Regions from separate parts of the Homo sapiens genome. Here region 1 is linked to region 2. The links come from fine-mapping of genetic effects on gene expression. Tissue or cell type: nucleus accumbens. Region 2 holds a variant in brackets; the other region holds the start of a gene. All regions are shown on one strand. Distances are between the middles of the regions.

Region 1 (8,167 bases), 21 kb before region 2:
CTACTGCAGCTACAGTGTTTTAAATTTAAGTTCATTGCCAACACTAACAGGTCAGGGGATTTCACACAAAAATCCAGATTCCTGGCTCCTCTAGAAAAGTGTGCAACCCTGGGCCCGTATTCCCACATTGCCGTGATATCTCACCCAGAGGTAAAGCCTGGGGCTCTGTCATCCCCACCCTTCAGTGGATCCAGCAACCAACACCATGCCTGGCTGATGGTAGGCACTCAAGAAAAGCTAATTAATGAAAATGGAGAGACTATGCTGGATAATGGGGGAAAACAAAGAAACAAACATTGGTCCCCAGAGTCAAGAGATCTGAGGCTGGTTCTGGATCTGGCTGACTTGTTGCATGACCTTGGCCTCTCTGTGGCTCTTTCCTTTCTTCAAATGAATGAGAGTTTCCACTTCCCAGGGTCATGGTTTCATACAGGAGAGAGGATGTGAAGTGCTTAGCAGATGCCTCACATCTAATGCTCAATCAACGCAAGTTATTACGGCAAGGAACTCAATAAGTATTTGCTCTTTAGGAAGGGTGAGAAGGAGTTCAAATCCATCTCTGCTACTCACTAGCTAGGTGACCTTCGGTGTTTCACTTAATCTCATTTGGGCCCTAGTTTCCCCATCTATCAAATGGGGATGATACATGGTTATTGTGAATATCAAATGTAAATGTGAAATTAAACTAATTAATCCCTAAAATCACTTAGAACAAGGCCAGCCTTAAGTCTGTGGTCAACATAGGCCAGCTGTGACTATTAGAGCTGCTCAGAAATGGGATAACTCGAATTGCTCAGGAGCCCCCATGGCTCCAAAATTCTCTGACCACCTTAAACCTAGTGACTCTCATTCAGCTTACCTTCAGTCACAGAAATGTATAGAAGGCCCTTGGGTCCATGAGGTGAAGGGGGACAGAATTCACCATACAAGTGTTTACCATCTCTCTAGAAAGTTCTACAATGCTCTTATGATAATGCTGACTAAAATCACACAGAGTAGCAGCAACAAAAGGGAGACAGTGGGTGGGGAACAGAGAACAGCCCTGGGAGGGAGGTGTGATTATTACCTGCAAGAGTTAAAGAAAGAGGCAAGAAACATGAAAAGTGGCTCAACAGTTAAATACAGGTTTATTTTGGAGCATAAACCTGAGAGGGGCTTCTGGCCAATTTCAGTCAGGAGTGCTCTCTCTTACAGACTAAGAGTATTTAAGGGTTTAGGGCAAGAGAGCTTACCACAGGCTTGGAATGTTTCTGTGTGGAGGAGAAGTTTACTGTGGGGTTGGAATGTCTCCGGTCTGAGGGTGGGTTATGTTGGGGCTGACATCTCTCTGACCAGAGGGGAGGTTATCTTGGGGCTGCATGTCTCTGGTCGGGGGGTGGGTTTATCTTAGGGTTGGAATGTTTCTGATTGGAGATGTCACTTGTGGTTTATGGTCATTCTGACATTAGCCATTAGGCTGATGCCCTTTGGGTTGAATTTAGGCCGTTTTTGATCAAGGAGAACTTTAAAATGGCAGTGCTTGTCCAAGATGGCTATGCTCCGGCTCTGTCATTACCCACCTCGCAAAATGAAGGAACCAAGGCTTCGGAGGCTGCCCTGATGTGTGTCTGTGTCTTAGCTACGTGGAGCTGCCTCGGGAGGGTGACTCACCAAATGGGGTCCTTTAAGGGATTAACAGGGTCACTCATGGTGAACAGGTTGGCCTGGAGGGGAGCCGGCAAGAGGAAGGCAGAAGACCAGAAAGAGGCTTTTTGCTCACTCAGACCTGGATGTCTGAGACAGACTCACGTGATGTCACCAAAGAAGAAAAGCAGTTACGAGAAATGAAGGAGAAACAGACCTTTACCGTAGCGCCAGGAATGAATCCCAAGGAAAGAACATCTCAGACAACTTGCATTTACTCTGGATTCGGGGCTGAAACCATCAGCCATTCATAGAGTGTGTGTGTTTATTCCCCCACACAAGGCTGGCAGCCACTCTGAGATGCAGAGTGGCGGAGAGGTGGAATGTTCTAGGTGTCTGGAGGGAATGTGGAACTTTCGCACAGGCACCTTTGCTGAGGGGCTGCTCTTCCCTTCAGCATCAGCCATCAGAATCCCAGGGGCCCTGAGAAAGTGAGAACAAGGGGTACATTCGGCCAACCAGTGACAGTGATGATAAACCAAATCTGTCCAGATAAGCTTCCGCTCTCCCATCCACCCCACAATCACGTGTGCACCTACTATCTCCCAGGCACTCATACGTTTCTCTCCTTCCATCTCCACAACCACCCCACAAGGCGGGTTCTCCTAGGCCCATCCTGAGGCTGAGGGATGAGGTGACTTGTCCAGGCCAGGGATTTAGGTCTCTGACCCCCTAACCACGTGCAAGAGGCACCCCCAACCCAGTAAACGCGTACAGAGAGCCTCCCTGGGTGACGGGCAAACGAGGTTAGTGATGCATTCTCCTTTTGCAGAGAGTAAATGGACTAAGAGCAAAGTACGACTTCAAGTTTCCGAGTCTCACCGCTTAGCCCCATCAAAGTGTATTTGTTCTCCCTTTGTTCACAAACATCACTTTAATAAAACACCTTCATATTTTAGATTTTAACGCTCATTACATCTTTGAGCTTTTAAAATGAGATTTCCCTGCGGGATGCGGGGCAAGGACTGCACTTCTCCATGCACTTTAATAGCCGCGCTGTGCAGAACCCGGGAACCGGGGAAGCCGCGAGAACCGCGCGAAGTCAGAGCAAGTCAAAACGACCTCTACAGCGGCGGCCTGGCCCACTGCGCAGGCGCCGCTCCAGACCGCCTAGAGCCCAACCTGCCCCATTGTAGGCGAACCCACTTCTAGAAGGACAGCGGGAGTGGCGAATCCCTATTCCTCCCGAAGATGGGTCAAGCCAGACTCTGACCAATCAGAAAGCTTCTCTTGTCACCGCTTCTGACTGCTTGACGTGGAGGCTTCTTTATCTCGGGACTCTCAGGCGCAGCGGGGGCGGGATATAAAGCTGGTTGACGTCAATTACAACCACTCGTCAAGCAGACTGAACTTGAAGAACTGATAACTCTACGAATTGCATCTCAAGAAAAGGCTGTTATCCCAGCTCTCTACTCCCATTGGATTTTTGTGAGACCTTGAGGGTGGGAGCTTTTGGCGGCAACCAATCGAGGGTCAGCGAGGAGGAGGAGGAGGCGGGGCAGGTGGGCTATGGTTGCTTGGAGAGTGCATCCGGCCCGGTACTTGTGATCGGAGGAGAGCCGGATCGTCCTTCCTTGAACCCTCTGGGTAGGGCTGTGCTGAGGGGCTGGGCGGGGAGCACAGGCCGTGTCCGCTCGCTTGCACCTTTTCAGACTGCCGTGTCAGGCCTCGAGCCGGGCCCACCTGGAGCCCTCCCCTGCCCACCCGCCCCCAGCGCCCGATATCCGCCCCCGGCCCAGAAGGGCCGGGCTCGGTCATCCCCAGTCCCGTCGCGGCCACTGACCCTTGAGATCAGCCCTCCCCTCCCCACCTTCCCGTCCCAGGCCAGCCCAGGGCCCGAAGCCCACCCACTCGCGTCTCTAGCAGCCGCTCTTGTCCTCTGGGTACGGCTCGCGGGAGTGTTGGTTACCATGGTGAAGCTGGCAGCCAAATGCATCCTGGCAGGTGAGTCTGAAAACTTGCGCTTGAATACGGTGGTCTCTGGAGTCCAGAGCCTTCATAATTCATCCAGAGCTTTTGTTCACCTAAATTGCCTACCTTTTCCTTTCTCTCTCCCAAAGGCGAGTTACTGCAATTACTGATACAGTAAATTACGTTAGGCGTGGAAGAATGATCTTCCAGGGCACTTCGCAGCTCCAGTGGATTTCCCCCTGCTCCCTGTCACATACTCTGAGACCACCTTCACCAGTTGAGGTGACTCGTTAAAAAATCACTAGTTACAACTCTGGAGAAGCAGACTTGTTAAAACAAAACAAAACAAACAAAGCTTAAGCAAACCTTGAGTGCTTCAGCTAAACATATACTGTACCCCAAAGTTAGGCATCAGTGACTTTGGTAGTCTTTACTATGGGATTTTTCCCCCGACCTCACCCCCTCTGATAACGGTGACCTGAGTGTAGTGACCAGAGTTTGCAAAAGGCACTTGTGTGTTGTCTTTAAGACCCAAAGTTACTGTGCTGCCCCACTCCAAGAAGGGCATAAATGTTGAGTCTCCCAAAGGCAGGAATCTTTGTTTTGTTGACTGATACATCCCAAGCACCCAGAACAATGCCTGGAACATAGTAGGTACTCAATAAATACTTTTAGAATGGATGAATATGTGAATATGTGGCATGCACATTTGTAGTGTACCCCTTGTATCAGTCTGCACATTTAGAAAAACAATATTTTGGATTATAGACTGCGAAACACATATGCATGTTACTGAGTGCTTACTGCATGTGAAGCACACATATTTCATGTAATCGTCTCACCATAGCACACTGGGCTAGGTACTGGATTGTTTTTCTTTTTTTTTTTTTTTTTTGAGACGGAGTCTCACGCTGTTGCCCAGGCTGGAGGGCAGTGGCGCAATCTCGGCTCACTGCAACCTCCACCTCCCTGGTTCAAGCAATTCCCCTGCCTCAGCCTCCCAAGTAGCTGGGATTACAGGCGCAAGCCACCATGCCCGGCTAATTTTTTTTTGTATTTTTAATAGAGCTGGGGTTTCACCATGTTGGCCAGACTGGTCTCGAACTCCTGACTTCAGGTGATCCACCCACCTCGGCCTCCCAAAGTGCTGGGATTACAGGCATGAGCCACTGCGCCCGGCCAGGTACTGGATTGTTCTGATCTTACTGAGGCACTGAGAGATGTCAGCCAAGGTCAACCCCTAGTGAAGGCCCTATGCAGGATTTCAGCCCCTAGATCTGGCCAACTCCAAAACTCTTAACTCGTGTTTCTGTTGAAACCTGTGACCTTTCCAGGCTTCCCTGGCCAGCTCAGGAAAGAAGTGGTGAGAAATTATATAGAGAAAAAGAGATTCCTGTTTTAAAAAATTCCCCTCTTCCAGACTGAGAATAAATGATAATATTTTTAATGGCTTTTATAATTTGAAAATAAAAGGGTCACACAGAAAGATGACTGACAGTAGTAACTGAATCATACTGGAGCAAAATAAATTAATGGTTCTCAGGAGAATCTCCAGTTTCCAGAGCACCAGAGGAGGCAGTGTTGTGTAACAAAAGTAATTTTGCCTGTTCCTCTTATTGGCTGTGTCATCTTGGACGAAGCACTTTTTGAGCTTTAATTTCCTTATGGATAAGGTGGGAACATTATTTTCTGAAGTTACTTTTTTTTTTAAATGGGCTTCTCTCTGGGTTCTTTTTAAATTCGGTTTTCATCATGGAGCTAACTTACTGGCGCTTTGGGTGCATCAGCTCTGCTAGACCCTCAATACAGGTGGTCTCATTGAATCCTCATAGCAACCCTGTGGGATTGGCATTATTGCCATCCTCATTTACAGATGAGGCAACTGAGGCCCAGAAAAATGAGAACATTTGCCATGGGTCACAGAGCTGGAAGTGGCAGAGCTGTATGATCCAGACCCTGGGTCCCAATCTGATTTCCAGGGCTTTAGCCCAAGCTACTCTGTCCTCAAGTAGTGCTCCTCTGTGTCCTTCTATTTTTTTTTTTTTTTTTTTTGAGACGGAGTTTCACTCTCATTGCCTAAGCTGGAGTGCAATGGCACAATCTCAGCTCACTGCAACCTCCACCTCCTGGGTTCAAGCGATTCTTCTGCCTCAGCCTCCCAAGTAGCTGGGATTACAGGCGCCCACCACCATACCCAGCTAATTTTTTGTATTTTTTAGTGGAGACTGGGTTTCACCATGTTAGCCAGGCTGGTCTTGAACTCCTGACGTCAGGTGATCTGCCCGCCTCGGCCTCCCAAAGTGCTGGGATTACAGGCGTGAGTCACTGTGCCCGGACCTTTTTTTTTGAGGCGTAATTTCACTCTGTCTCCCAGGCTGGAGTGCAGTGGTGCACAACCTTAGCTCACTGCAACTTCCACCTCCTGGGTTTAAATGATTCCCTGCCTCAGCCTCCCGAGCAGCCGGGGATACAGGCACACACCACCATGCCCAGTTAATTTTTGTATTTTTAGTAGAGATGGGGTTTCACCAGTTGGTCAGGCTGGTCTTGAACTCCAGACCTCAAGTGATCCACCTGCCTCAGCCTCCCAAAGTGCTGGGATTACAGGCGTGAGCCACCCACTATGCCCGGCCTCTTTGTGCCCTTCTTTACCCCCAACTCCCTTGGGTAGTTCTTTCACCTGAGTGCAGCCACTGCCTAGTTAGTGGCTCCTGAACTCCAGCCTGCGCCTCAATCTGCAGCCTCTTTTCAGGGATTCCACAGCATTTCCTCTTGGAAGTTTCCAGGGACCAAAAGACCTCAGCCCAGAAATCAGCCCCCTCTGACACCTGTCCACCCACCCCCACCACACACATGCCATTGGTTTTATTTTTCCATCCATGACCCACAGCCCTACTGTTTAAACTGAGTTACTCTGTTTTTTCTCTCACATAACTGGTCATTGAAGGACCTGACGTTCAGTTCAAGTGTTTATGCATTGAACAGATACTCGCTGAGCACCTACTACGTCAGAGTCACCGTGCAAGGTGCAGTGGGCCTGCAAGCATGAGTCAGTTGCACTCAAGGAAGAACTAAGATGCGTGTGATACGTTCTAACACAGCGAACACAAAGTGAATGCCCTTTGTGTGCCAGATGCGGGGAAATGCCTCCAGGCACAGCTGCTACTTGTTCTGGTTCTGGAGAAGAAAGAAAACAACATTTGACATTGATCTGTATTTTGTTTACTTTTAAAAAAACACTTAAATAGTACTTATATATGCCAGGCACTGTGCATATTAACTCATTAAATCCTCATAACAATTCTGTGGGGTAGGTGCTATGATTATCTTAGGTTATACATGTTGCAGCTGAGGCACAGAGAGGTTAAGTAACTGATTTAAACTCACACAGCTAGAAAGTGATGGAGCTGGAGTCTGGCTCCAGAGTCTGTGCCCTTAAGTACCATAATATGCTGCCTCTTGATATACATGGAGATGGTAATAGAGCCTCCTGGGAGGGTTGCTCTGACATCACATCGTGCGCTACCACTGAGCAACGATCCACGTTAGCCACACAGATAAAGATGAAGGAGGGAGAGATGGCCTTCAGAGGCTGTGCAGGAAGGGTATTCTTTGAGCTTTCCTTGCAGAGAATGGACAGGATTTGAATTTGGTCTAGGGGTACCTGGAAGGAGGTGGCCTTGAGGAATTTCCAGGGACTGGGCGAACAGGAATGCAGAGCCCAGATTTGGGGTAAGGGATTACTAGGGAGAGAGTGGGAAGGTGGGTTAGGGCTGACCGTGGAGATGGGTAGGCTATGAAGGAATCCTCAGTGGGGTTTGTGTGAAGGTTTGCCAAGATGGAGGCACTGTGTCATGGGGGTCCACCTGTTGATGCCACCCACTGGGTGGATAACAGCCGGGAGAAAAAAGAAGAGAAAAGAAGTGTTCAAGGCACAGTCGGGAAGACAGAAAACGCAGTCGTCATTTCAGCAGAGAAATTTTAATGTATGGAATTGCTTCATCAAGTGTTGGAGAACTGAGGAAGCAAGAAGGCAGCATTGAGTTGACACAGATTGGCGGGCAGAGGTCGGGGTTGTCAGAAGCTTGAAGAGACCCAGGGAGCTGGGATCCGGACCCCTGAGGAAGGGGCCCTGCCCGGCTGGTCCCGGCACCTCAGGAGTTCAGTCACCTGCCGCGTGACCCCAGCACATGCCACAGAGCACCAGGACCCATTTCCCACTGGGAGGAGCCCAGCCCTGTGTTCAGGGCAAGACACACCAAACCAGTTCCAAACCATCCTGGAGGGTCCATGTTTTAAGACCACTCCTGGTACCAAGGACTACATAAGTCAGGGGCCAGGCAAAAACCAGCAACTCTACTCGGCATTTCAACAGTGAGGATTTCAGTAGGATGTGAATGACACTGGTGCTAGAGGACTGGAAGAGGAAAAGGGGGAAACTGAGGCAGCACGGGTAGTAACTGCAGGAAGGAGCACCACCTCTTGGGCTGGGGAAGCAGAGGGAAGCATGTGGGGCTCTCAGCCCAGAAGCAGGGAGGAGGGGCCCTGGGAGCCAAGGTGTGGATCTCTGAGA
Region 2 (8,207 bases):
ACCTCTGCTCTTTTAATATATAATGATGGCTTTAAATAAAATTAGGAGAAAATGTCGAAGCAGCAGCTCCTTCCACTCTTGGCCTGGGTGGCCCTAGTTCCACTGTACACTTTGGCCACTGCGTCACTGCCGGTTCCAGGGCAGCCGGGAGCCCCACTTGGGACCCTGGCCCTCCCTTCTGTGAGGCTGGTGCTTCGGGACGTCGCCTTGCTCGAGGGGGTGGTCCTGCCCACTGCGCGGCAGGGTGCACCGGCTCCTTAAAGGGCCTCCCACTGCAAAAGCGAAGCCCGCAGTGGGTATTGAAAGGGCCTGGCCCAGCGTTTGCTTACGGTTTCCCACAGCTGAAATGCCCAGCTCAGAACCTGTCCCAAGGCTGAGATGGGGCTGATGGCCCCCTTATTCTGACAGAGTCCGTTCTGCTGCTTGCTCCTGGCTAGCCAGATGCCAGACCTCCCTGGAGGTAGTTCCTGTCACTGGCAGAACAGTGCCCTCTGCCGGCCTTCCTTGGTGCCTGTCTCTTGGTGGCAGGTCCAGCCTCTATGGCTGCAGGGAAGGCTGAGCGCAGGGAGGCCAGGGCTCCTGCCTGCCTCGGGGAGCTGGGCAGCTGGCATCATTATTTGCACTGAGCTTGACTGTTCTCCATCCTGTCTCTGCTGCCAGATTAATCTTCTAAAACACCACTTTCATCGTCTCACTCCCCTGATTAAAGACCCACAGAGGTGCCTCACCACCTTTTACATCAGGATGCCGGCCAAGGTCTGGCATCCAAGGCCTTCCCTGACTGTCACCTTCCCCCAGGGGTCTCGGCTTCTTTCAGCCCCCGTGCCCCAGAGGACTTCATCACTCTCCCTCCACAGGAGCTAGGGGTGTCATGCAGAGTGCCAGCGTTGGGGTGGACGGACCTGGGCCTGTCCCAGTGATAATGGCAATAATGGAAATTGCCCTGGTTCCTGTTTACGACCTGCCATGTCTCTACATGAGCTAAGCACATGTCATATATTCGCTAATTTAGTCCTTACAGTGCAGAGTCTTACCATCCCCCTTTTACAAATGAGGAGCTGGAGTCAGAGAATTAAGACACTTAGCCAAGGGGTGGCCGAGCCACGATCGTGGACGCCAGAGCCCGGCTCCCAGCCGCCGTCCTCTTCTGCCTCCTCCCGAGCTTGGCTGGGAGCAGGTGGGGGTTAGGCTGCCTCTCAAGGTCACTGTGAGAAGTGAAGTAACGGGTGTGCAGGGCATCTGGGCACACGGTGTCAGCCAAGGTCAGGCTCTCGCGTCCCCCTTCTTTTCCTGTTACTCAACATGAAGCCACTGTAGCGGCCGCGTCATGCCTTCAGCAAGTAGTTACCAAGGGCCTACCATTTGCCGGGCATTTTCCTAGGCACTAGCAACGCCAGGCTGCTGGTTTCGTGTCACATGTTCCAAAAGGGAAGGCTCACCATAACCAAGGGGATGCAGCGGGGACATTTCCGGTTGCCCCAGAATTGGTTACCAGGGCCACAGCTGTGGACAAAGATGCTAAATAAACCACCTCCTAAAGAGATCATGGAAGCTTAGGGCCAGCCCCCTTCCCCATGGCCCTAGTAGAGGCGGAAGAATTGGTCCTGCTGCTGTGAGCTCCCCTTCCCCCTACTCCCCACTCCTCCCTGTCTGTATAAGATTGGAATGGTCAAGAGAGATGGGAGTGAGGGTGGCCACTGTGTTGGTGAGTGGGTGCCCCCCCCATCACCCCCTTGCCCCGCCAAGGGAAGGAGGCCCAAGAGGATCCTCCTGAGACAGGATGCTGCCAGGAAGAGGGGGCTGGCACCACACCCCCAGCCGGATGCTCTCTGAGCTGCAGAAACCTGGTGCCAGCTGCAGCACAGGGTGGCGAGGGCACCCTTGGGAAGCTCAGCACACATCCCCAGAGCTGTTTGGTCCCCTCTGGGGGGCGTTCCATGGGGAGAGGCTTGGGGAGAAGCCTGCACCAGCAGTGGGAAAAGCAAGGACCGCGTCTGGAAGGGCGGCACGGGTGTTCCACGGAAGGCTCCTAGAAGGACCCACATGGAGTGGAGTCATGTGACCAGCCAGCCAGGTACTGACAAAGGGAGCTGTTTCCTACCTGGAAAAGGGCAGGGGGCCTCTTCCCCTGGCAGGGCTGGAGGGGAATGTGGCTGCCCCTTCCTGAGGAGACCCCAGCAACAGAGGAGGCTCAGCCCCAAAACAACCAAGTACCTCCCCCACCCCCTGCCACCACGGAGATAACAGATGGAACCAGACCCAGAGGAGGCCTGTGGAGAAGACACGCAGCTCCTCCCTGGCCCCTCTGTTCCAAGTTACTCCAGAGAGAGGAAGAAAAGATCTTGCTCCCCTCCCCACCCTTCTGGAAAAGAGATTTGAACAAACACTTTGGAAGCTTTGAGCTGGCCTGGCCTGCCTTTCAGTGACTAGGATGGTCTGAAACGTGTCGGGATCAGCCTGCTAGGAAGACCCAGCAGGAAGGGGACCTCTGCAGAGCTTGATGGAAAAAAGTAATTAGGAAAAAGTAAAATGGTTTTGTTTCAGAGCCCATGGATTCGAGATTCTCCAATAAACTGGTTCTACAAGTAAATAAATGATCAAGATAATTTGAGGCAGTGCAGATGACAAAACGGAGCTGAGATGGGTGTTGATTTGTGGGGTAACTGGTTTGGGGGGATAGGAAGGACTATGAGAAGAAGGGACATTTGCACTGAGATTCAGCAAGAAGGTCAGCAAGTGCAAAGGCCCTGAGGCACGAACAAGCTTGGAACATGGAGGAACTTAAGGCCGGTGAAGACATACCCTGGTGTGTGCCGGGGAAGGAGAGGAAGGTGAGATAGGGAGGGTCCACAGTGGGAGGAATTTCTATTTTATTCCAAAGGCAACAGGAAGCCAGAGGTGGATGGACATCAGAGCTTTTTTTTTTTTTTTTTTTTGAGAGTCTCGTTCTGTCACCCAGGCTGGAGTGCAATGGTGCAATCTTGGCTCACCGCACCTCTGCCTCCCAGGTTCAAGCAATTCTCCTGCCTCAGCCTTCCGAGTAGCTGGGATTACAGACATGCACCACCACGCCTGGCTAATTTTTGTATTTTTTAGTAGGGATGGGGTTTCTCTATGTTGGCCAGGCTGGTCTTGAACACCTGTCCTCAGGTGATCCACCCACCTCTGCCTCCCAAAATGCTGGGATTACGGGCGTAAGCCACCGCGCCCAGCCGGACATCAGAGATTTTACATCCTCACAGTGCCCAGCACTATTTGGGAACCTAACAAGTGGCTATTAATTACTTCACTTGCCTAAAGAACCCACTCTCAATGAGCAAACATTGACAAAATGCATGCTGCGTCTGCAGATTTTATTCCTGAAAGAAGGCATTTGCTGAATGAATGCTTGAATCAAGCAGTTGCTGAGCACCTACTATGTGCCAATCCCTGTTCTATATCTTGGGATTTTGTCAGTGAGTAACACAAAAATGCCTCCCCTCAGGGTGCTTACGTTCAAGGGGGGTGAGCGAGGTGTTTGATTGAATAGGTAAATTTTGCAGTCTGTTAGGTTGCAATAGAGCAGAGGCGTGCAGAGGACGTGCCAGGGTGGGGGCTGCAATATTAAACAGGGAAGTCGGGAAGACCTTCCTTGGAAGGTGATGTTTAAGCAGGATTTGAAGGTCATAGCACCTGGCACCCTCTAGGCATCATTGGCTCATCAGTGACCCCTCAGAGGTGGAGCTTGACCACTTTCTTTTCCTAGTGCCCAACGCTGGACCTCCGTAAAGTCCGATGAGTGTGGGAGGTGTGGATGGACACCAGAGATGCATACCCTGCCCTAGAATCACCTGCCATCCATAGAGGAGAAAAAGGAGCCGACTCTTGATTTCTAAACTCCAGTGGAACCCAAAAAGCGTTGATCTTTCAAATCCTGAGGGAGGTTAGAGGAACCGCCCCTCTGTCTCCTTTAGGATCTCCGAAGAAGGTTCTGTTTGTTGTCCTCCACGATTCTTGCCTTCTGTAAGAGCGGTTTGGCCTGGGACCTGGCCTCTTGTCCTCTTCCATGGCTCTGGGCTGGCCATTCCGCAGCATCTTTTAGAGCTGCCTCTTGACATCACCTGATTCAGCCAGAGAGGGCGGGGAAGCCGAGGTGACTGGGAGGGTGGACACACTGTGGGGCCGGTCGTGTTTGGGGTGGGTGTTCAGAAACAGTTGCCCAGTTCCAAAGCACTGCCTCTGTGACACCCAGGCCCTTCCCTGCCGCATCCATTCAGATGTGGATGGGGTAGGAGAAGCCCGCCAGGCAGGTTTCCCTGGACGGTGTTTCTGCTGTGAAAGGAGCCCTGTAGTTTTCCGTATCTGGGAAACATGCATTGGATAGACCATCTTCTGGAAGGAGAGATGGGGGCAAGAGGCAACCTGCTTCCATGTCTATAAATAAAATGCATTCATTTTGGTGCTAAAATGTTGTGGTTTTAAAAATGGAATACTAAAAACTTCCTGGCCCAAGCTGGAGTGGCAAGAAGCACAGATTCAGTTGATCCCAGGATGGGAACTGAAATTTACACTAAGCCACATCTACTGGACGATTGGTGCCCATCCTGGAGATGCAGAAGGAAGCCTTTGGTTTTGCACCTGTGCTTCCCATTCCAGCATTCATCTCTGTCCAGGGTCCTGCCCTGCATTGGAGATCAGGGAGGACTGAGGAGGTGGCCTGGAGGAGCTCCAGGTCTGCTGCCTAGGAAGGGTTTCCAGGACCTTGCAGGGAAATACCTGATGTTAGCCAGGGAAGAGAATTCCAGACAAAGGGAAGCATATGCAAAGGCCCTGAGGCATGAAGCTGGAGGCCCTCTTGGGGAACCGTGTGCGTTGTAGGGTTTGGGGAGAGACGGGTGCCCAGCAGGTGAGGTCAGAGACAAGGATGAAGCAAGAACATGGAGCTCTTTGTACCCAGAGCAGAGGAGTTGGACTTTCTCCAGAAGGGAGTGGAGA[G/A]CCATTATCAGAAGTGACTCACCTGGATTTTTGCTTTGGAAAGATCAGCCTGGAGGAATTGGAGGGTGGAGTGGGAGAGAAGGTGCCTGGAGGTAAGGAGACCAAGAGCTGATGGGGATGAGGGGTAAGGTAGGACAAGGCTTGCACCATCTCCAGCATTTGCAAAACTTGGGGAAATGTATTTTCAGCCCCTTAGAGTTGTCCTCATTTCACACACCCATCCTTTTTGTTCAGAACACCAATTGATTTTTAAAGTGTGTTATCCTTTATTTACTTTAGAGACAGAAAACACAGAGAGAGTGACTTCTCCGGGTTGCAAATTGTCAGTGATGGAGCCAGGATTAAGAACTCGGGCTGGCCAGCCCTCTGTGGATCGTATGATGTTTATGTATACGATGCCCATTCACTCTTCTGCCCTGCCAGCAAACAGAGCTGATGAATATGAGGAGAATGGCAGCGAAGAGCTTGTTTCCATTCTAAAAAGGCAAGAAGCCTAGGAAGGCTCATTAGGAGAAAATATTGAATGGGCAGCTTTCGAGTTTCACCTGTGATCTGAGAGGGAAAGTGTATTTTCACCGAAGCCATTATGTAACTGGTTCCGGGGGGCAGAGAGGAGTGACCAGAGAAGAGAATGAGGGCAAGAGACCAGGAGAGCAAAGACAGGGTCACCATCTAGAGGGCAGGGGCTACATCTGACATCCCCTGTAGACCCTCTGGATGCAGCCAAGGTTTAGAGGTTAGAGCACTGCTTTCATATCAGACGAGTGGAATTAGGATTGCAGCGGTGTGTCCTTGGACAAAGCACTGATCCTCTCTGGCCCTCAATTTTCTTGTTTATGAAATGGGAATAATACCACTAACCTTACCAGTTTTTGTGGGTGGATGGAGATATATAAAACCTACTTTTAGAAGGCATGATATATAGTAAACGTTCAGTGCTTTATAGGTGATTTCCAAATCATCTGTAGTAACTATGGCTTTTTTACAAGCATGGAAATAATGTGTGTTTATTTAAAAAAAAAAGAAACTATTACTAAAAAGCATAAAGAAGAAAGTAGAAAATATTCAAATCCTACCACTCAGAGATAGCCACCCATCACATCCAGGCATGTGCACCTCCTCCCTTTCTCCTCCACATGTACAAATATGTACATATTTTGAAGCCAAAAACAAAATGTGATAATGCCATATATGAAATTTGGAACTTATCTCTTTTCATTTAACAATATCTGGTGGGTATTATTTCAGGTCAGAAAATATGATTTTAGGCCAGGTGCAGTGGCTCACGACTGTAATCTCAACATTTTGGGAGGCTGAGGTGGGCGGATCACTTGAGGTCAGGAGTTCGAGACCAGCCTGGCCAACATGGTGAAACTCCATCTCTACTAAAAATATAAAAATTAGCTAGGCATGATGGTGGGCAGCTGTAATCCCAGCTACTCGGGAGGCTGAGGCAAGAGAATCTCTTGAACCCAGGATGGGGAGGTTACAGTGAGCGAGACTCTGTCTCAAATATATGTATCATATATATCACATATATATGATATATATATCATATATATGATATGTGATATATATGATATATATCATATATATGTGATATATGTGATATATATGATATATATCATATATGTGATATATATATGATATATATGATATATATATGATATATATGATATATATGACATATATGATATATATGATATATATGATATATATGTGACATATATGATATATATATGATATATATGTGATATACATCATATATATATCACATATATATCATATCATATATCACATATATATCATATCATATATCACATATATATCATATCATATATATCATATATAACATATATATCATATATATCATATATAACATATATATCATATGTATCATATATATCATATATATCATATGTATCATATATATCATATATATCATATATATCTCATATATCTCATATATATCATATATATCATATATAAATCATATATATCATATATATGATATATAAATCATATATGTATCATATATATCATATATGTATCATATATACATATATATGATACATATATGTATCATATATATGATGCATATATGTATCATGTATATCTCATATATATCATATATATCTCATATATATCATATCTCATATATCTCATATATCTCATATATATCATATATATGATCATATATGATCATATATGATATATATGATCATATATGATATATATATCCCATATATATCATATATATGATATATATGTGATTTTACATGGTCTTTTTATTTCTTTTTAAATCGTGAGAATTGTAAAACCTACACAAAAACAGAACAGCATGATGAACGCTCATTTACCTGACAGCCAGATTCGGAACTTCCAAGATCCTGCCGCACTTGCTCTGTCCTGCTCCCCTGCCATGATGGTGGTGGTTACGATCGTTTAAACCAAATGCCAGCCCTCCAGTCACTGCCTCTAAACCAACCACAAAGCCATTATCACACCACATAAAATTAATAGTAATTCTTTAGGAGCATCTACTGTTCAGTCCACAGTCAAATTTCCCTGATTTACTCCCAAAGGTTCTTTTGCAGTTGGTTTATTACGTGACCCACGCATAATGATTTCCAGTTGAAGGACACCAGGTTTCCAGGTGGTCACTCAGGAAAACAGCCAAGGACAGTGTCCCCTTGCACATATCTGTGGACCCCTGTCCAATTATTTCTGCAGGACATACATTCCTAGAAAGGGACATTCCAAGTCAAAGTCTACGTACTTTTTTAAAAAAGCTTTTAATAGCATTTGACAAATTGCCCTCCAGATAAATTGTACCAGTTTACACTCCTAGGAGTGGGGACTGGCACCCTGGACAGCTCTGGGTCGTTAATGAAAAGAAATTAGAGAGAGAGAAGGCAGGTGGAGAGAAAAAGAGAGAAGGAAGAGAGGGCTGGAGTGAGAGGGAGCAGAGTGACACTGCAGAGCTCTGGTGCCCCCTGGGTGCCAGCCTGCCCGAGCCAGAGAGGAGCTCAGAGAACCAAGGGTATCAACCAACCAGCGGCTGCACCAGATTAAGCCCTAAAGCAACGATTCAGTCGAGACCGAGAACAAAGCTGAAGCAAAGACTCTTCGATCCATTCTAATTAGGAGCTGCCTTTCCAGAGAAATCAAGAGCAGGCTGCCACGGCTGAAAGCAAAAAAAAGAAGGAAAAGAAAAAAACTGCTGCAACCCA

The links. PIP is the estimated chance that this variant, and not a neighbour inherited with it, causes the effect.
Region 1: IFT27 starts here. The variant in region 2 is fine-mapped to the expression of IFT27 in nucleus accumbens (GTEx, PIP 0.98).

Annotation. Positions count from the first base shown.
Region 1 is chr22:36,771,134-36,779,300 of GRCh38, reverse strand. IFT27 (intraflagellar transport 27) reads left to right here and starts at 3,182. Exons shown (of 7, transcript NM_001177701.3): 1 at 3,182-3,627. The coding sequence starts at 3,594. RefSeq lists enhancers at 1,790-2,353, 2,881-3,140, 2,919-3,482 and silencers at 3,381-3,430, 3,561-3,620.
Region 2 is chr22:36,750,060-36,758,266 of GRCh38, reverse strand. All of the region lies in intron 2 of CACNG2-DT (CACNG2 divergent transcript), which reads right to left. IFT27 (intraflagellar transport 27) reads left to right here. Exons shown (of 7, transcript NM_001177701.3): 7 at 1-56. Among named protein-coding and RNA genes, the nearest start is that of IFT27, 22 kb to the left of the region's middle. The variant G/A (reference allele first, on the strand shown) is at 4,975.